Linked DNA regions of Homo sapiens: region 2 is linked to region 1. Evidence: fine-mapped expression QTL. Tissue or cell type: whole blood. Region 1 holds a variant in brackets; the other region holds the start of a gene. All regions are shown on one strand. Distances are from middle to middle.

Region 1 (3,036 bases):
CAAAAAATTTGCCAGGCATGGTGGTGCCCACCTGTGGTCCCAGCTACTTGGGAGGCTGAGGTGGGAGGATCTCTTGAGCCTGAGAGGCAGAGGTTGCAGTGAGCCAGGATCAATGCAACTGCACTCCAGCCTGGGGAACATAGTGAGACTCTATCTCAAATAAATAAATAAATAAATAAATAAATAATAAAATTCTTGCTTTTTCTTTTTGCTTAATATTATGGTCAGTAAAATGGAGGCGGGGGGCTAATATAATTGTCACACACACACACAAGAATATACATATATGTGAATTATATACATAAATATATAGCTATAGCCTTATTGCTCAAAGTGTGGTTTGAGGATCATCAGCATCATATTTGCAAAGTTGTGCAACCATCACCACAGTCAATTTTAGAACATTTTTCATCATCCTTGAGCTGTTTGTTAAATAATACCCCCAGCCCTAGGCAACCACTGATCTACTTTCTAGCTCTGTAACTTTCTCTCTTCTGGACGTTTTGAATAAATGGAATTATATAATGTGATCTTTTGTGACTGGCTTCTTTCACTTACTATGATTTTTAAAAAATGGTTTCATTATATCATAGTATATATTAGCACTTCATTCCTTTTTGTGGCCAAATAATAGGCCATTGAATGGAGGTACCATATTTTTCCATTCATCAGCTGGTGGGCATTTAGGTTGTTTATACCTTTTAGCTATTATGAATAGTTGTTATGTGAACACTCGTACAAGTTTTCGTGTGGATGTATGTTTTCGTTTCTCTTGCATATATGCTTAGGAGTGGAGTTTTTGGGTCAGATGTAATTCCATGTTTGAGTTTTTGAGGAACTGCCAGACTGTTTTCCAAAGCAACTGCACCATTTTACGTTACTGCCAGCAATAATCAGGGTTCCAATTGCTCCATATTTTCACTGACACTTGTTATTAGCTGTCTTTTTACTTATAGCACCCTAGTGGATGTGAAATTATATTTCATTGTGTTTGATTAACATTACCTGGATGACTAATGATGAGCATTTGCATGTCCCTATTGGGCCATTTTAAAATTTGTGTTGTCTTTTTATTATTGAGTTGTAAGTGTTCTTAATATAGTCTAGATACAAGTTCCTTATTAGATACATGATTTGCAAATATTTTCTCACAGTCTCTCTTATAAGAGTCTCCTAATCTGCCTCCTGTCATGTGTTCCTCTATTTCAGTGCCCATTGTGCAGCCAGAAAGATCTAACTAAATAAAATCTGATGATACTTCTAATTTGCACTGCTGTGATAGTTCTTCATTACCCACAAAAAAGAAGTAAAAATGATTTCACATGATATATAAAGCACTCCATGTGTATCTCTTTAGCCTTTGGTCACTTTGGAGCAAAGTCAGATTTTCTGGAAGTGGCTGGGCAGTTTAACAACTCCTAGCTATTGTTTTGATGTTCTCTCTGGTTTCGTCCA[C/T]ACTGCTTCTTCCAGCCTACCCTTCCCTCACCTGGCAAAAACTCACTTCTCTTTTGAGACAGGGTCTTGCTGTGTCACCCAGGCTGGAGTGCAGTGCAGTGGTATAATCTCAGCTCACTGCAGCCTCGACCTCCTGGGCTCAGGCAGTCCTCCCACCTCAGCCTCCCAAGTAGCTGGGACTACGGGCACATGCCACCACGCCTGGCTAATCACTTTTCTAAATGTTGCTTAACAGTTATCTTTTCTGTGGATCGTTTCTGGCCCTGCTCCCCTGCCCTCCTTTTCTGTGGTTAAAATGACCTATGGTGTCTTTGTTCTTTTTATACATGTCACCTAATGGCATTGTTCTTATATAACTTCATTCTATTTGATTACTAAACTTCAACCTCATCTTAGAACAGAGACCATGTTTTAATTCATTTTTGTTTACAACATGTAGCAAAATGTCTGGATGTCTGGCATTTATTTACCCAATAAATGTATGTTGAATTCGTAAAAGCATGTTTGTTCAAATATCTGTAGACTTGATCTTGACATATCATTTCCTTTTTATAGATATGCCGTAGATGATGTTCCCTTCTCAATCCCTGCTGCCTCTGAAATTGCCGACCTTAGTAACATCATCAATAAACTACTAAAGGACAAAAATGGTGGGTATATATGCTTAGGAGAGGGCACAGTGTCCCTAATTATTCTAAAATGCATTAAGTTTTTAGTTCCTTTTTTGGCCTTATGATACTGTATGAATTTTGTAGTGGTAAAATTTGTAAGTTATAAAGTACAGGTTCTTCTGCTGGATGATACTGTAAATACTGCTTTGAAAGAAAAGTTTTCAGAAAAAAATTTCTGTTTAATCTGTTTTTAAGGCCATGTGGAAATATGGTGGTTGTAGTTAAGGAATAAAGATTTTGGTATAAAGTTGTAATATAGAGGTAATCAAGACATTGATTGTTCTACAGAGGGCTGAGTTATGCAGGCATAAAACAAGCGTTTTAGTGCTTAGGCCCCATTTACTAGTGAAGCACAAAGCAAAATGACAATATCAGTATTTGAGTGTTTAGTGTAATATCAAAATGACAGTATGAATACCAGTATTTTATTTTTTGTGTCCAGAATTCATAAAAAAAGGATATAACAAAACATGGAAGAATATAAAACATTTAAAAGATACAAATATTAAATATATACTATTGTACTAATATAAGTTATTTGCCCATTAAATTAATATGAACAATGTATGTAAAAATATCAATGAAATAAGATTGGCTATGAGTTAATAATTGTTGAAGTTTGTAATCCCAGCACTTTGGGAGGCCGAGGCGGGTGGATCACGAGGTCAGGAGTTTGAGACCAGCCTGACCAACATGGTGAAACCCCGTCTCTACTAAAAATACAAAAATCAGCCAGGCGTGGTGGCACATGCCTGTAATCTCAGCTGCTAAGGAGGCTGAGGCAGGAGAATTGCTTGAACCCGGGAGGCGGAGGTTGCAGTGAGCCAAGATCGCACCATTGCACTCCAGCCTGGGTGATAGAGGAAGTCTCAAAAAAAAAAAAAATGTTGAAGTTTGGTGATAGGTGTAA
Region 2 (2,500 bases), 37 kb after region 1:
GAGAAATGCCTCATTTGGTAAGATTCAGGAAAGCCATCCCAAGGAAATAGGTCAATCACTCATGTTTGCCAAACGCTAATTTTTACCCTTCTGAGGAAAGCTGTAGACTCCTCAAAAAAACAAACAAAATTTTGCACATAATCTCAGGTATTTGCCTATTCCTTGAAATCCAAATATCTCAGGGTAAAAGTCTAAAGACATTTAATGTTTTCAGTCCAAATTAACCCTCTGTAGCTTGCCACTTTTCCTATTCTAAAAGTATAATTTCCAGGTTAAGGTGAGTATTTTGTACTGTTAATATTCCAGAACCTCGGCCGGGCGCGGTGGCTCATGCCTGTAATCTCAGCACTTTGGGAGGCCGAGGCGGGCGGATCACGAGGTCAGGAGATCGAGACCATCCTGGCTAACACGGTGAAACCCCGACTCTACTAAAAATACAAAAAACTTAGCCAGGCGTGGTGGCAGGCGCCTGTAGTCCCAGCTATTCGGGAGGCTGAGGCAGGAGAATGGCGTGAACCCGGGAGGCGGAGCTTGCAGTGAGCCGAGATCGCGCCACTGTACTCCGGCCTGGGCGACAGAGCGAGACTCCGTCTCAAATAAAATAAAATAAAATAAATTCTAGACTCACCCCATCTTTGTCATCATACAGATTTTAATTATCACCTCGAGTGTTAACCTTTTAATTCTTTGCTAGCCTATGTGTCGCAGTTGTAATTAATAATTCGTATTCTGCTGTTTTAGGAAAGTTCTTTTAAGTTTTGGAGTCACCTTTAAAAAGAATGAAGTTTGAATTTATTAAATTATCTCCTACTAGTAGTAAATAGTTTTGCCTTCCTTTTTGTTTTTTTCCTGAGACTTTCAGGATCCGGTTTTACCTTTTACTCTTGAAGATTCATCATAAACATTATGGATATGGATATGTGCATTTGAGATTGGTTATGAACGGTTGTTAACTTAGACCTCTTTAAACCTTTAACACGGGAGTTAAATACAGCGGGCGAACGCTTTCCGCCTAAGGAGCACTGGTGCTAAGGGGCCGCCCCAGAAGGCCCGGCAGGTCCGGGGGTGGGGGTGCTCGGAGGGAGCCGGGAGGGCCCCGGGCCAATGCCTTCCACTTCCCCACGCCTCAGAGAGCTCACACTCAGCTCCTCGTAATGTTCTGACCGGTTTGGTGTTTGTCATTTCACTTTATTAAGTAAAGAGGAAATCGGGAAAGGAGGAATAGAGAGGGTCCCCGAGTTCATTCAAGAGCAGACCGAGAGATGCTCCGATCCCGAGTCGGGCCGGTGGCGGGGTCAGGCCGGCGCCCGAGGGGGGCGAACGCGGACGCCAGGTCGCGCGGTTTAAATCTCCCGCCTCCCGCAGCGGGAGCCTGACACCTCCACGCACTGGTGCGGAGGGGCACTGGCTGCCGGAGGGCCGGGAGTCGGCGCGGGGCTCGCGGGCGGTGGCCGGAACGGGTGCCGGGACGGATCACCGTACGGCCGAACGCGACCCGAGGAGGCGGAAGAGCGGCGCCGGTAAGCTTCTGCTGCCTCCTGTCCGCCCCTATTCCCCCTCAGGCGGCGGTCAGGCCCGGAGACCAAATCCCGGGTTCCCATGGCGACGCCGGGAGGCGGGGGCGCGGCGGGAGGCTCCGGCCACACGCGCGCGCGCGCGGCTTCTCGGGGCCTTGCTGGCCTCCTCGGTTCTCTGGGGGACCCCGGCCGCTGCCTGCGGCCTTCTTCCAGGCGAGGCCCTGCTCGGGGTTCTTCCGGCCTCCCCCCAGGCAAAACCCGCAAGGAGCGGTTTCTGGCGTGGCTGGGTCCCCTGCGGCGGAAGGGCGCCTCCCGGCCACGCTCGCTGTAGTGAAGGAGCGCGGCAGCCTGGGGCTCGTTTGGGTGATTTCCCTCGGCGGTGGAGGTCGCTCCTAATAGAGGCGGCGGCGGATCACCCGAACAGCCTTCAGGTGCTTCCCTGCTGACCTCTTTTTAACGTGGTGCTTATTTTTATTTCGCTATTATTTTGTAATGGGAATGTCTTCCTTAGAAACTAATTGGCAACCGATGGATAAAAACAAAACATAGTAAATGTGCAGTTTGAGCTGAACTGCAGAATGCACGGGCCCGCGAGGGGCTCCGCGCACAGATCCTGCTCCTTAGGCCGGCAACCCGACCCCACGGCACAGATATGGCTCCTGGAAACGCGCGTCAGCTGGTCAGGTGCCCAGGTGATGTCAGTGGTCAGATACCTGATGCTCTAAGGAAGACGGAGAGGGGAAAGCGGGGAGTCCATCCTGGCAGCTCACCCGCGATGCTGGGGCGTTGCCAGTAGAGGGGGTGGAATCATTTTTCGTGTAATAGATGATCTTGATGCACACAGCATAAAAGCTGTTATAAACTATGGGTCTCTGTAAAATAGATTGTTGGGAAGGTAACATTTTTCCATGGTTTTGATTTTTCCCAAAAGTATTTATGTATTGATTTATTTGGTTCTGACTCAGGCGACGTACTGTAAGACG

The links. PIP is the estimated chance that this variant, and not a neighbour inherited with it, causes the effect.
Region 2: ICA1L starts here. The variant in region 1 is fine-mapped to the expression of ICA1L in whole blood (INTERVAL, PIP above 0.99).

The regions. Positions count from the first base shown.
Region 1 is chr2:202,906,934-202,909,969 of GRCh38, reverse strand. WDR12 (WD repeat domain 12) reads left to right here. Exons shown (of 13, transcript NM_018256.4): 2 at 2,011-2,105. Among named protein-coding and RNA genes, the nearest start is that of WDR12, 3.2 kb to the left of the region's middle. The variant C/T (reference allele first, on the strand shown) is at 1,456.
Region 2 is chr2:202,870,639-202,873,138 of GRCh38, reverse strand. It overlaps ICA1L (islet cell autoantigen 1 like), which reads left to right and starts at 1,373. Exons shown (of 13, transcript NM_001288622.3): 1 at 1,373-1,520. RefSeq lists silencers at 1,061-1,190, 1,251-1,300, 1,341-1,830.